Linked DNA regions of Homo sapiens. The protein of the gene in region 2 purifies or fractionates together with the protein of the main gene of each other region. This does not show direct contact. Each region holds a gene or a part of one and is shown on either strand. Other genes may lie near its edges.

The links. The genes of interacting proteins can lie anywhere in the genome.
Region 1: the proteins of FGF4 (region 2) and TGFBR3 purify together in Homo sapiens (affinity purification with mass spectrometry; one large-scale study listed by BioGRID and IntAct). This does not show direct contact.
Region 3: the proteins of FGF4 (region 2) and ALDH1A1 purify together in Homo sapiens (affinity purification with mass spectrometry; one large-scale study listed by BioGRID and IntAct). This does not show direct contact.
Region 4: the proteins of FGF4 (region 2) and N4BP3 purify together in Homo sapiens (affinity purification with mass spectrometry; one large-scale study listed by BioGRID and IntAct). This does not show direct contact.

Annotation. Positions count from the first base shown.
Region 1 is NC_000001.11:91,879,652-91,883,151, forward strand, and holds part of TGFBR3 (transforming growth factor beta receptor type 3 isoform a precursor), read right to left. Parts: intron 1-3,500. UniProt on the Homo sapiens protein: Cell surface receptor that regulates diverse cellular processes including cell proliferation, differentiation, migration, and apoptosis.
Region 2 is NC_000011.10:69,772,542-69,776,668, reverse strand, and holds the start of FGF4 (fibroblast growth factor 4 precursor), read left to right. Parts: upstream 1-1,327; 5' UTR 1,328-1,584; coding exon 1,585-1,924; intron 1,925-2,541; coding exon 2,542-2,645; intron 2,646-3,183; coding exon 3,184-3,360; 3' UTR 3,361-4,127. UniProt on the Homo sapiens protein: Plays an important role in the regulation of embryonic development, cell proliferation, and cell differentiation. Required for normal limb and cardiac valve development during embryogenesis.
Region 3 is NC_000009.12:72,922,054-72,925,553, reverse strand, and holds part of ALDH1A1 (aldehyde dehydrogenase 1A1), read left to right. Parts: coding exon 1-70; intron 71-1,421; coding exon 1,422-1,535; intron 1,536-3,500. UniProt on the Homo sapiens protein: Cytosolic dehydrogenase that catalyzes the irreversible oxidation of a wide range of aldehydes to their corresponding carboxylic acid.
Region 4 is NC_000005.10:178,112,308-178,116,331, forward strand, and holds the start of N4BP3 (NEDD4-binding protein 3), read left to right. Parts: upstream 1-1,224; 5' UTR 1,225-1,464; intron 1,465-2,458; exon of another isoform or gene 2,459-4,024.

The DNA of each region.
Region 1 (3,500 bases), on a different chromosome or scaffold from region 2:
ACATTTTGGTTGAGAGAGCAAGACATCAAAATCATTATTCAAGTGGGGAGGAAGAATGCTTGGAAATTTGTGCTGATTCTTAAGCAAGGACTTTGCAAGCAGAGAAAATAAAGCTCAATGTCAGTTAACAAACAAATGTGCTATTTCAAAAGATATAAAATAAGAAATCTAGAAATTTTATATTCCTAGATTTATTTATTATATTTCTATATTTCCTGGACAGAGCCCAGGAAATGAACCCAGATCCTTCTTGTAAGGCCCTTCCAAGCTGTGTTGATTTATTTCAGCTTGACTAGACACTGAACAAATTAGCAACAGCTTGTGTTTTATGACATGCTGCAAAGAAACAATGCTATCATTCCAAGTGTTACTCTGAAGATGCAGAACCAGAGAAGTTACTGCTATGGCTCTTGGTACACTTAATTTTCTTCCTACAGAAATGCCCTCACTCAATCTGCTGAAGGCTCACTATTATGTGTTTAAGGTTAGCTTTTCATATAACCTAGATTCACTCTTAAATTCCAAATTGCTTATATTCCTAGTGGCAATACAAGACTGCTTTTACATTAAAGGCCCCTAAAAACATTTATCTAACTCAAGTTATGCAAATTTCAAAAAAGTTAACATTTTTTAAATTTACAATTGTTTTAAATAAGTTTAAAAATATGGCCGGGCGCGATGGCTCACACCTGTAATCCCAGCACGTTGGGAGGCCAAGACGGCGGATCACGAGGTCAGGAGATTGAGACCATCCTAGCTAACACGGTGAAACCCTGTCTCTACTAAAAATACAAAAATTAGCTGGGCGTGGTGGCGGGCGCCTGTAGTCTCAGCTACTCGGGAGACTGAGGCAAGAGAATGGCGTGAACCAGGGAGGCGGAGCTTGCAGTGAGCCGAGATCGCGCCACTGCACTCCACCCTGGGTGACAGAGCGAGACTCCGTCCCAAAAAAAATAAAAATAAAAATAAAAATATAAGAAAAATGCTCCAGTAGACTGATGGAAATGGCAATAAAATCACTTTTAAGTAACTGTTAAGACTGAAAAAGAAGACTGTCCTTTAGTAGCTAATAAATCTGACAGCCAGGAGCAGTGGCTCATGCCTGTAATCCCAACAATTTGAGAAGATGAGGCAGGAGGATCACTTGAGCCCAGGAGTTCGAGACCAGCCGAGGCAACATAGTAAGACTCTGTCTCAAAATATATACATATTATATATTATACAATATATAGTTATAGATTATATATATGTGAGATTTTACATATATTTACATATTTTATATGAATAAGTATATAAATAAAAATAAAAAATAAATCTGACAATTACAATTTTTATCCAACAGCAATGAAAGCACCACAAAAAGATGTTTCAAAATGAACTATCAAGAAGGGAGGTAATTCAAAATGACCACAGAGCAGAATCATCCAGGCAAAATATTACAGCAAAGTTATTACTTACACAGTCACAGTCTAAACTCTAACTGTTCTGTCTGTTAAGCTTAAAATGTAAAGTCAGGACCTTTCACAGATTTTTGAAGCCAGGAAATTGGTCTTCACTTATATACTAAAGAAGTCAGCAGTGATCACCTTCTTAAAACTCAAAGGACAGTTGAGTTCCCTGGGCTCTTAGGCTCAGATTCTGCCCTCAGAAAAACAAGCACTCACCTGACTTTTACAAGTCACAACCAAGTTTGCATGCAAGAGAGAAAAATTAATTCTTTTGAGTCTTAAAAACAATGGAACAACACTTTCCTTCAAGCCAACGAAAGGCTTTCTGTAAGAAAGCCCTAAGCAACCTGAAGGCATTTTGGCCCCCAGTCATCAGAGCACTGAATAAGGACAATTAATTTGCCAAGCTCCAAGACCAGAAACCATAGCCTAGTAGGGAGTAGGAGGTTATAAGTGTTTGTTGAATTACTCGAGTAAACTAGAGCAAAGCATAGAAGACTAAATGAGATCCTAAATAAATGCCACTCTGTAGTATAAGCGCAATGCTAAGATTTAAAAAGAAGGGACTCAACTAATTTTGAAAGTTATTTTAAAATAGGATCCATGGGACCCTAACGTAGTAAATGAAATAAAGGTAAATCAATACTACATAATATGGGGCCGGGCACAGTCGCTCACGCCTATAATCCCAGCACTTTGGGAGGCCGAGGCGGGTGGATCATGAGGTCAGGAGATCAAGACCATCGGGGCTAACACAGTGAAGCCCCGTCTCTACGAAAAATATAAAAAATTAGTCGGGCGTGGTGGCATGCACCTGTGGTCCCCGCTACTCGGGAGGCTGAGGCAGGAGAATCTCTTGAACCTGGGAGGCGGAGGTTGCAGTGAGCCAAGATCACTCCACTGCACTCCAGCCTGGACGACAGAGCGAAACTTTGTCTCAAAAATAAATAAATAAATAAATAATAAAAAAATACTACATAATACGCAAGAAACAAGAAAGGAAACTGGCCTACAAAACTACAGACAAAAATTGAAAACCTTTTTTTTTTTTTTTTTTGAGACAGAACCTCGCTGTCTGCCAGGCTGGCGTGCAGTGGCACGATCTCAGCTCACTGAAACCTCCACCTCCTGGGCTCAAGGGATCCTCCCACCTCAGCCTCTGGAGTAGCTGTGATTACAGGTGTGCACCACCACGCTCAGCAAATTGTTGTATTTTCTGTAGAGATCAGGTTTCGCCATGTTGGCCAGGCTGGTCTCGAACTCCTGACCTCAAGTGATCCACCTGCCTCGGCCTCCCAACATGCTGGGATTACAGGCGTGAGCCACCACACCCAGCCAAAAACTTTTTTTAAAAGTCAAGTTTGGCCAGGCACCGTGGCTCACGCCTGTAATCCCAGCACTTTGGGAGGCTGAGGTAGGCGGATCACAAGGTCAGGAGATCGAGACCTTCCTGGCTAACACGGTGAAACCCCGTCTCTACTAAAAATACAAAAAAATTAGCCGGGCATGGTGGCGAGTGCCTGTAGTTACAGCTGCTGGGGAGGCTGAGGCAGGAGAATGGCGTGAACCTGGGAGGTGGAGCTTGCAGTGAGCTGAGATTGCACCACTGCACTCCCGCCCGGGCGACAGAGCGAGAGACTCCATCTCAAAAAATAAATAAATAAATAGATAAATGTCAAGTGTGATTTTTTCAAGCATATTCTTATTGTTTATGTTTACAAGTATGAGTATTCATAGACACATCACACTTATACTAGTATCAAATATGATACATCTGAACTACTACTATACTTGAATATTAACGTAAGCCTCTGAGGAATTCACAGTAATAGAACTGCTGTTATTTAGGATTACTGATCCCCTATTGTCTTGCACTTAGAAGATGTTAATGAAAGATGATGACAGGATTGTGAACACACCAACCTCCCTGAGAACAAATTCATTATATTCAGTTTTCTACAAAACACAAATGAGGATCATTACAAAAGGATTCACAACAAATTCCTCTGGATTTCCATTTCTCCCAGGTAAGTTGAAATATTATTCAAACCA
Region 2 (4,127 bases):
TGCCCAAGCAGGCTGCAGGCCCAAGGAGGAACAAAGATCCTCTCAAGGGGTGCGGAGCTGAGGTTCCGGTCCTGCCAAAGCCACTTGATGACCCCCAAGTGCCCCCCTTTCTGCACCTCAGAGAAGAGCCCTCAAGCCTCCCAGGTCCCCTCCAGGGGCACGAATAAGCCCCAGCAGGGTTCTGAAGGGGTCCCAGGAATCTCCCTGTGGGGATGCGGTGGAGGTGGAGGAGGCTGCGGTGGCCTGGGGACATCTCTGGTCACAGGTGCTGGTGGTATGAGAGATGGGGTAGGCACCAAGCCCCCTGCAGCTGTGGCTAGGCGGGCCTGCAGGAAGGGCCAGGCAGGCTCCTCAGGGACCACAAAGAACAGGGGTTTTCACACCTAGGTGGGCCTGCATCTAGCTAGGACAGTCCCCATCAGGCCATAATGGGCACAGTGGGAGGTAGAACCATGAGTGAGAGAGGGGAGGCTTCCAGAGGCCTGGCCTGGGTCCCTGCTAGATTGAGGGCTCTGGCTATGGTACATGGATATTTCTGCTGTGGAATCAAAGGAGCAGGGGATGCTGAATATCCCCTCTGGCCCTATGCCCTGCTACCTGTCCTTTCACGGAAGGGTGTGTGTGTAGGGGGTGCAGGACCAGGCCTCCCTGGGTGCATCTCTGCCACCTTGCCCTTTGGCTCAGGTGGACCTCCACCAGGTATTCAGAACTCCAGCCCAGAAACGCGCCAAGCCTGTGGGGCCAAGACCTAGGGGGTGGGGGTGGCCTCCCTCCCGCCTGTAGCCAAAGGGTCCTCCCTTGCCCAGCCAGGCCCCGGTGTCGCTTACTGCTCTTATCCACCCCTCCTTCCCAGGCCGGTCCTCAAGGCCCCAGCAAAGGAACCAAGTTCCCGTGAGCCTCCGAAAGGCGAAGGGCAGGCAGCAGCCGCTGGCTTCTGCGCCCACTAGGAGCTTCGGATGCCCGAGTTAGGGCTGCGCCAAGGCGGCCGGAGCAGAGAGGGAGACGGGGACGGGGACAGGCAGGGACAAAGTGCAAGAGGCAAAACTGGCTGAAAAGCAGAAGTGTAGGAGCCGCCAAGGGGCGGGACGAACAGGTCCGTGGGCCGGGCGGAGCCAAGGGTGGGGGCCGGGGTCCCTCCAGGTGGCACTCGCGGCGCTAGTCCCCAGCCTCCTCCCTTCCCCCGGCCCTGATTGGCAGGCGGCCTGCGACCAGCCGCGAACGCCACAGCGCCCCGGGCGCCCAGGAGAACGCGAACGGCCCCCCGCGGGAGCGGGCGAGTAGGAGGGGGCGCCGGGCTATATATATAGCGGCTCGGCCTCGGGCGGGCCTGGCGCTCAGGGAGGCGCGCACTGCTCCTCAGAGTCCCAGCTCCAGCCGCGCGCTTTCCGCCCGGCTCGCCGCTCCATGCAGCCGGGGTAGAGCCCGGCGCCCGGGGGCCCCGTCGCTTGCCTCCCGCACCTCCTCGGTTGCGCACTCCTGCCCGAGGTCGGCCGTGCGCTCCCGCGGGACGCCACAGGCGCAGCTCTGCCCCCCAGCTTCCCGGGCGCACTGACCGCCTGACCGACGCACGGCCCTCGGGCCGGGATGTCGGGGCCCGGGACGGCCGCGGTAGCGCTGCTCCCGGCGGTCCTGCTGGCCTTGCTGGCGCCCTGGGCGGGCCGAGGGGGCGCCGCCGCACCCACTGCACCCAACGGCACGCTGGAGGCCGAGCTGGAGCGCCGCTGGGAGAGCCTGGTGGCGCTCTCGTTGGCGCGCCTGCCGGTGGCAGCGCAGCCCAAGGAGGCGGCCGTCCAGAGCGGCGCCGGCGACTACCTGCTGGGCATCAAGCGGCTGCGGCGGCTCTACTGCAACGTGGGCATCGGCTTCCACCTCCAGGCGCTCCCCGACGGCCGCATCGGCGGCGCGCACGCGGACACCCGCGACAGTGAGTGGCGCGGCCAGGCGCGAAGGGGCGGGGGCGGGGGGCAACGGCCGCCGGGCCAACCCGCTCAGTCACACTCTGAGACCCTCGGCGGGCACCTGCTCGGGGGCCCCGGGAACCGGGGCGGACTCGGGCTCCGGTCCCTTCTGACGCGGGGCTGGGGACGCAGACACTCTTGGCTCCGGCAGCCCAGCGCAACCCCTGAGGTCGGGCGCCGCCTCCCGCCTTCAGAAACTCGGGCTCCGAGCGCCGAATTCCAGCGCCTTCGCCCGTGGGCACAGGGCGCGCGGTGCAGCCACAGGGGGCCCGAGACACGCGCCCCGGCCTGGCCCAGGCTGGGGAACCGCTGGGGTCGGGCTCGCGTCTGAAGGTCCGGGACTGGGTGCGGCCGCCGGGGGTCCCCTACACAGGCAAGCTAATCTGAGCTAGCGCAGGCTTGGGCTCCGGAGGCCCTAGAGGGCAGCTTGGGCTCTGGAGGCCCTTGGGGGCGGCTGCGCCGGGAACCCTGGCCCTTTATCCCCAACCCCACCCCAGAAATAGGGTCCCCGGAGGCGAACAAGCCGAGGGGCGGAGTGGGCCAGGGATCACCTGCCCCGCAATGACCTGCGCCCCGCCCCCAGGCCTGCTGGAGCTCTCGCCCGTGGAGCGGGGCGTGGTGAGCATCTTCGGCGTGGCCAGCCGGTTCTTCGTGGCCATGAGCAGCAAGGGCAAGCTCTATGGCTCGGTGAGTACCGCAGGGGTCTGGCTAGGCACCTAGTTGGGAACAGCGGACATGGCTAGCAGGCTCGTGGCTTCTCCAGCCCCACCTGTGCCTGGGTCTTGGAGGGGTGGCAGGGTCACCAGGTCACGGGACCGGCAGGCCTCCCCAGACAAAGGAAGCAGCCCCAAGGCAGGAACAATGAGGTTCCTGCCATCCCTGAGTGGGCCCCTCCCAGACCGAGGAAAGGGCGCTATTGAGAGCCCTTCCCTTCTCTAGTCCAGAGGGGTAGGTCTCAGTGTTGGAACTGCGGGCTTGAGGCTGGACACGGAGGGAATGAATTCTCTGGCTGCTAGGTGCAGGGCAGGTGGTGAGAGCACCAGCTGTTGTGGGCTGGCCATGTCCCCTTCTCACCCTGTGTGGGTCTTGACACCTTAACTGCTCAGCAGAGACATCTCAGCCCAGGGTGGGGGGTGGGACAGAAGGGGGTTCTGACCCCTGGCTTCAGGCTGGGTACCTTGCCCAAGAGGTGCCCCAGCCCTGACACTGCCCTGCTTTGCTGCAGCCCTTCTTCACCGATGAGTGCACGTTCAAGGAGATTCTCCTTCCCAACAACTACAACGCCTACGAGTCCTACAAGTACCCCGGCATGTTCATCGCCCTGAGCAAGAATGGGAAGACCAAGAAGGGGAACCGAGTGTCGCCCACCATGAAGGTCACCCACTTCCTCCCCAGGCTGTGACCCTCCAGAGGACCCTTGCCTCAGCCTCGGGAAGCCCCTGGGAGGGCAGTGCCGAGGGTCACCTTGGTGCACTTTCTTCGGATGAAGAGTTTAATGCAAGAGTAGGTGTAAGATATTTAAATTAATTATTTAAATGTGTATATATTGCCACCAAATTATTTATAGTTCTGCGGGTGTGTTTTTTAATTTTCTGGGGGGAAAAAAAGACAAAACAAAAAACCAACTCTGACTTTTCTGGTGCAACAGTGGAGAATCTTACCATTGGATTTCTTTAACTTGTCAAAAGTTGTCACGAGTGTGCTGCTATTCTGTGTTTTAAAAAAAGGTGACATTGGATTCCGATGTCATCCCCTGTAGTATGGCGTGGAGCATCTCTGTCTGGAAAGGCCCGCCTGAGGCTTGGGCAGCCAGTTCAGGGAGCTCCCAGGCTTGGCTCTCGGCTAGCATCCTCAGAGGCCCACTCCCTTTGTGCCCTGTTGCTATTAATCGGGACATATCGGTTTACTTCGGGTACAGAAAGTGCGGTGTTGAAGTCCTCGCTGCCACTCTGTTTTTAGATCTGCCAAGACTGACCTTTGAACTTTCCTGTAGTCAATCTTCCTCGATCTACCAGATGGGAGAGACCCTTGGACAACTTTATAAACTCCTGTTTGCCTTTTTTGGATCAGCGACAGCCCCCATCGCTGTGACTATTGGGGAAAAGACGAAGCTCTTTCATAAATTCCATGGAGAGGAATCAATATCCCACTGGAAGGCTAGAAATGGAC
Region 3 (3,500 bases), on a different chromosome or scaffold from region 2:
CACAGTGGTTGTCAAACCAGCAGAGCAAACTCCTCTCACTGCTCTCCACGTGGCATCTTTAATAAAAGAGGTAAGTCTCCCGAAATCAAAATATGCTCAAGAACTCAAGAATCCTAAATTACAATAGGAAGACCTCATTTGTTGCTACTATAAAGTACATTATTTACAGATGGCTCCTGTCCAGTGGGGGGAATACATTTAGCATGACGGCTGGCTGCAATTTCTGGCAGTCACCCCAAATTCATCTCTGCCCAAATGCAGACAGGAAGCCAAACACAAAGGTTTGGTGTCAAACAGTCAACTTGGGATCACATTTTTGCTTCTTTGTCCAACTCTCATGAACATAAATTCATGTTGAAATTAATGTAGCATTCTTTCAAATGTTGAAACATTAAGTTGGTTTGTACCTGCCACTGATGGCCTAGTGTTTTCTGCAAAATTGTGTAAACTAATCTATGTAAGGTTGAAAGGGCCTCTATGCCAATATGCTTGTTTGTAATATTGGGCCACATTATTTCCAAACACTTTTCAATCTACTCATGAGTGGATATGTTTATATTCAGTTTTCTATTATGAGTTCCTCTGCATTTATCTTCCTGTTCAAAAACAGTAAAAGAACATGTAAAACATTTTCATCAGCTATCTAGATTGTGTTAATATACTTGCAAACAATTCATTGTCCTTTTTTCTTCATCTTACCAAATCTTAAAAAATAAATGTTAATCACTAGAAACTTAAAGTTACAAAACTGAACTTATCTTTTAAAGATATTATTTATTGAAATTAAAAACAGGGAAAAGAGATGTCAAAATGAAACATTTCGATGCAAATAACATGAAATTGTAATGTGCCCAACTCAGTTCCCATGCCTTCACCTGAATTCTTTAATGAAGATTGAAATCAACCTGTGATGTTGAATCATGAATGGGATGACAGTATTTACTTAACAATTTACTAAGTAATGCCAATGGGAATTTGCAACTCAGCAGTTATGCCCTCAACAATCAACAACAGCTAGGAACTAAAAAATGTTAGATCCCTTCAGCTTCTTATTTTTGCTGATGGGAATAATAAACATGTTACTTACTTTCTACATAAGTAACTTACCAAACACTTTTTTACATACAATCTTTTTGAGTTAGCATTATGAAATTTGAAAGAGCCATCACTGGAGCAATGATTCATAGAGTATGGACTTACCCTGACAAGAAATTGTCCTTTAATAATGCAACCCTTGAAGTTATTCTCTTATGTGTGCTTAGAAATGACATAATAAGACTAAAGAATAGAGCCAGTTGGGTGAATTATTTTTTTCTAGAGCATCTCATAAGGTTGGCATTAAGAGACAATCTCAATCCCCTACTCTCCTCCTTTTTGAATTAAATTCTTATACTGTAACTTTTAAACTTTTTATCTTTTAGGCAGGGTTTCCTCCTGGAGTAGTGAATATTGTTCCTGGTTATGGGCCTACAGCAGGGGCAGCCATTTCTTCTCACATGGATATAGACAAAGTAGCCTTCACAGGATCAACAGAGGTAATATTATTTACTCAGGGCAAAAGTTAAGAATGTCTGCATTGCCAGCTATGAAGTATGTTTTATGTAACTATTTTTGAGCCAACAATTTTAAAACAAAAACTCTTTTTAATGATTTGTTACTTATTTTAGCCTTCAAACATATGGATAGAATATAAGCAGATGTAGTTTGAATGACATGATGCACCTATTTTAAATCAGAATGAGAGTAAACTATTTTTAGTATGTTCATTACTTTCTCTGACGAGAAATATGGCTGCTGAGACCTTGTCATATTATTAGGAAGATTTATAATAGAAAATTAGGCCATAGTGATTTGTATGAATGAATATGATTTTATCCTATAGGTTATGAAAATTAAATAGTAGAGTCTCACCCTTTGCACCTTATTTGGGGTTGTCTTTCTCCTGGACACTGTGAAAGAGAGCCAGAAACTCAGCTTCCCTCAGTGGTACCTAGACTAACTTTTCTGCCTCTCTGGCTTGAACTTGACCATCCTAAAGGTTAAAGAAAAAGACCCCAACCACAAAGGAGAAGTGGCGGGCAGGAGGGAGAGCAGACTAGAAGGTGAAGTTTGGGAAAATAGATCCCCATTTATTGATGATGTTCTATCCTAAGCAAAAGAAAGTGGTGGAAGCATACTGTACCATGCAAAAAAAATTATTGAGTCATTCTATTAAATTACGTGACTTTGTTAGATGCTCAGTGCAAAAATGTTATTCATTGGTACACAGTATAGACAGTGAAGAGTGAGCTTCACTCCATCTTAGAAAGCTGCTGACAACAAGAGACCAGGCAGGGTGTGATAAGGTACTAAGGCATGTACAAAATGCTGTAAAAAAGGTTCACAAGAAGGAATGATGATGTCCAAATGGGTACTAGAACTAGCTCTGGGTTTTGAGGAATTGTTACTTTTTTAACTTCCTGGAAGTTGAGAAGCAAAAAAGACATTCCAGATAGTGTGGTGAGCATAATTTGATTATTTTATAATCTTAATTATTTACTCCAGAATAAAGGCAAATTTACATAGCAAAAAGAAATGGTGGAAAATCAAACTTTATTTTTCTTGGTCTTTTTAAAATGAAGTAAATAAATATATATATGTCTTCTTTGTTTTTCACAGACGTAGAGTAAAAAAAGTTTGCATTCTGCAACTCCCTAATTGAGATAGGGAAAAGCAAACCCCACAGTCAAGATTTATTGTAGACAGAACAAGTGGGAATGTTCAAGATATGGCAATACATTTAAAAATGGTGACACCACAGGTTGAAATCATACCAGAGGAATAAAGGTGAAAATTCCTCAGCCTAGAATTCTAGACCCTCCCCAATAGGGAATCCATGTGCCTGTTGAGGTCTGTCCAACCCATGGCCAGGGATGGCTTTGAATGTAGCCCGACACATTTTTTTTTCATTCTCATCAGCTATCTTTACTGTTAGTGTATTTTTTGTGTGGCCCAAGACAATTCTTCTTCCCATGTAGCCCAGGGAAGCCAAAAGATTGAACAACCCTGGTCTAGATCCTATGCCTACTCCTTCTCCAGGTCATCTGGACCAGGAGCTACTGTTTGCTGATCTCATCTTCAGCATCAGTTTGTCTTCGCTCATCCATGATCCCCTATAACATTGGGGGAGCACTTTACCTACTTAAAAAAATCCCTGGAGATTAAAAGTCTAGAAAATATCTTGGTTTAAATTCTGACTCTACCCCTCCTAGCAGTGTGTCTTTAAAAAGTTAAGTAGCCTTACTAAATTTGAGTTTCTTCATTTGTAAAATGGAGATGAGATCAAATTTACTGAGTTGTACAGAATACAATTAAATGAGCTAATGAGTAGTAAAACATTTATCACCCTACTGAGCGCTCAGTACATGCCATATTTCCTCTTTCCTCCCATACTTTTTAATTTCGCACACTAGTTTACACAATGTGAGAAAAAAGCTTCCTGTCCCAATATTTCTTTTTCT
Region 4 (4,024 bases), on a different chromosome or scaffold from region 2:
TTTGAGACAGGCTTACGCCATCATCCAGGCTGGAGTGTAGTGGCACAATCTCCGTTCATTGCAACTCTGCCTCCTGGGTTCAAGCAATTCTCCTACCTTAGCCTCCCGAGTAGCTGGGATTACAGGCTCGCTCCACCATGCCTGGCTAATGTTTGGTGTTTTTGGTAGAGATAGAATTTCGCCATGTTGGCCAGGCTGGTCTCAAACTCCTGACCTCAAGTGAGCCGCCTGCCTCGGCCTCCCAAAATGCTAGGATTACAGGGGTGAGCCACCACATCAGGTCTTTTTTTTTTTAAGATAGAGATGGAGTTTTGTGAGTTGCCCAGGCTGTTCCTGAACTCCTGGCCTCCAAAAGTGCTGGGAGAGTTCAGACATGAGTCATCACATGGCGTTCATTTCTTTTTTATGGCTGAATAATATTCCACTGAATGGATCTACCATTGTTTGCTTACACCCTCATCAATTGTTAGTTTGGGCTGTTTCCACCTTTTGGCTCTTTGACTATTGTGACTAGTACTGCCAAGAACATTACTTGTTTGAGGACTATAATTGCCGGATCATATGGTAACTCTATGCTTAACTTTTGAATTAGAAACGGTGTTTTAATTTTTCGAATATGACTCCTTTACGTGTCTGTGTCTGTTTCCATGTCTTCCTACTGTCTTAGTAGGAAGCTCACGACTCATTTGCGTAATTTTTCTGGCCCCTGAAGGCACCTGATTTTGCTGCCCCTAGAATACTTTGGAGGCAAAAAGAAAATAACTCTGTGCCCAATTCAGCCAGAGTCGTGGGGTAAAATCTTTTCACTTCTCAAAGTACTACTGTGGTTCATCCCCAAAGGGGGGAAATCAGGTTTTCCGGAGAGGAGGCGGCTACAATTAGGGAGGTGAGGGACCTCACGCGCCTCTTCCTTAGAGGAGGCGGGCGAGGCGAACGGCGGAGGAGGAGAAGCGGGGGCGCTGTGCGCTCTCTGGGGCGTGGGCCGCGCTCGGGGCTGCCCACCCCTCGGGAACGAGCCGGGGCGCTCAAGGAGGCAGCGACGCGAGGCGCAGCCGGTCCAGGTTTCGCCCGCCACCGCCGTGCGGCGCCTCTGCGGGTCAGGGCCGGGGGCGCGGTCGGGGCCGGGCGGGGCCCAGGTTGGCTCGCGGGTAGGCGGCCCCGCCCCCCACATCCGGGGGCCGGGGCCGGGCTGTGGGCTTGCCGCGCGCCGGTGAGTCAGGCCGGGTTTTCCCTCCGCCTTTGGGGCAGGCGATCGAGCGCCGCGGAGCGCGTCCCTCCCTCGCCAATCCGGCTCCGGCGCCGGCGCCCGCCCGCGTTTTCCCGGCGCCTGCCGCTCCGCCGCTCCGACCCGGCACGCAGTCCCGGCCCGAGCCGACGCCTTGCAGGAGGGTTCAAATCCGCGCGGGGGAGCTGCGACGCGCAAGGGCTGCGGAGCCGCGGGCCGGCGAGCGCGTCGCCACCATGGTAAGTGGGGCGCGCGAGGGGCTGGGGACCCGGGCTGGACTCGGGGGGTGGGGAGGGGTGGGGCGGGTCGCCAAGGTCTTGTTTTCGGGCGTCCTTGGCAAAGCTGCTGTCCCGCTGGCCGAGGCTCCCGTCTGAGAGATGGGCGGGGGTGGCAAGGTGCGGCGTGCGCCCAGGTGTCCCCTGCTCCCGGTCACCGAGGCACCGGATCGGGGACCGACCCCGATGCTCCGCTGGAGGGGCAGGCGGCAGGCTACCTTGCTCTCCCCAACCCCTGCAAACGCGCTTTCCAGGGAGCAGCGCGCGGGACCCCTGCGCCACGGCTGGGTGGGGCAGGCGTCCTTGGCGCCGGCGTCTGACCTCGGCCTCCGCCCCCCGGCCCAGCCGCTCCCGGCAGGCCTCAGGGAGGGGCCAGGAGGAGACGCGCCTCCCACCCCGCCCCCCAGGTAGCTCCGGGACCTCCCGCAGCTTTGGGGAACCCTCGCCTTCACCCCTGCTTTCCTGACACAAATTCCGTGGGGATGCAACCTCGTTTGCCCCTCTGACTTCCCCATGAGATCTCTCGCTTCCTCCCACACCTCCTTTATCCCCCAACCCCCTGCCGGTCCACCAGGCTGCAGCTGCGGGTCTGCGGGTAGGGGACATTCCTAGGTCTTGACCGCCAGAGCACCCGGTCCAGTCCCGGCCACAGCCTTTGGCCCAAGTGAGGGCTGGCCTGGGGACAAGCCGAAATCAGGGCCCTGGCTGTATCCAGAAAGAGAACTGAGACCCGTTGCCTCCCACTGGGCCACCCCCCGACCCCAACCACATAGGAACAGATTGGGCCTGGCTGTCCTCGGGAGGGAGCGGACGCAGGAGGCCATCCTGGGCGCGGTTATCAGCCTCCTCCCAGGGCCCTCCCAGGCAGGGCTTCTCTACCGGCTGGCAGCGTGTGGTGTGCATGTGCCAGACTGTGAATGAATGCGGCCAGCCTGCCTCTGCCACCGCCTCTAGAGCTAGCATAGCGACTCGGAGTCCCCATGAGGCAGGTTTCCTCTATTTCTTCCTGACCTGGGGGGCAGCAGGAGGGATTCCAGGCCTGGTGGACCGCAGTCTAGGGCAGCCTGGTTGCAAGTGTCCTTGGGAGAAACAGGCATGGAGGGCTGGGCAGACATATATGCAATACATACACAGCAGTGTGTGCCCATGGAGGGGAACCCGTGACCCCTGGCTTAGGACAACCTGCTGAGGTAGAAAGGACCTTGCCCAGGGAGTTGAGATTGCTTCTCACTGTGGGATCTTGGATAACTCACCTCGCCTTCCGAGGCCTCAGTTTCCCGATCTGTAAAATGGCGTGAGGGTAATTACTGTCCTGTTTGCCCCCACGAGGCTATTGTGGAGATGAAATGAGATAATGAAATAGAAGGGCTGAGAAAAAACTGTAGACTGCGGTGCAGCCGTGAAGCACTATATGGTGATACTAAGCACCACTTCCGCAGGCTTTAGCCCCTGTCTCTGCCTCAAGTGTCTGTCACAGAGGGGATGGGGTGGGCCAGCCTCTCCCAGCCCCTCTCTGGGCCCCCCTTGCCTACTACCCCCCCCTTTTGGAGCTGGGACATTCCAGTCCCATTCCTTAGGGGCAGCTGCAGACACGCCCCTTAGCAGAGCTGATCCCCCAGCAGGTGGTGGGACCTTTCCCTGGGGCCAGGGCTCAGGAGGGGCTGACTGTAGCCAGGGCAGGCAGCACTCCTGCCCATGTGGGGACTGGAATGTCCCACCCCAGAGGAGATGCAAGGTGGGATCCGAGAGGACTTCTAATCCTGGAGCCTGTGTGCTTTCTCCCCTGCGGCTGAACGTGACCTTAGGCGTGTTACTTCACTTTCTGAACCTCAGTTTCCTCTTGTGAAGTGGGGGATGACAGAACTCATCTCCTGTGTGTCTTGTGAGGATGTGATAGTGCCCTTTGGCGTGACCCAAAAGGGCACCAACAGGCTCTGGGACGCCCCCCTCAAAGAAAGCGCGTCCTCTCCTTCTTTGCTTCCTGGCCAGGGCAGCTGTGTCTTCCATCTCCACCAAGGATTGGTCCGAAAGCAATTCCTCTCCGTGTTCAGAGATTCCAGTGCTGCCTGCTAATCTTGGGGACTGGAGAGGGGTGAGGGGACTGGTGGCGGGGAGCAGGAGTGAAGAGGCCTTACTGGGGCTAGCCAGGACCTGTGGAGAATGTGGCTTGAATGTCCCAGCCCAAATCTAGCCAGCTGTGTGGCTGGGGGTTTGCCGCTCCCAGCTCAGGGAAGCCCAGGCACTTGGCTTGTCCCCTACCCTTCTCTCCACGACCCGTGCAGGGTCCCCGGCTTTTTGCTCTGATGTTCCAGTGAGGCTGCAAGGCACTTGCTGTCCTCCCTCCCTCCTCCCCCACCAAATCCCCTCCGCCTGCACAGCTGCCCTGCCCAGCTGCCCTGCCCGGAGCAGGCAATCCCTGGGCTTCCAAGCAACAGGAAGGAAGGAATGTATGTGTTGGGGGAGGGGGTGGAGGTAGGATGGACCCCTTTAGGAAAAGAGACTGTCCCCACTCTGTGACATACGC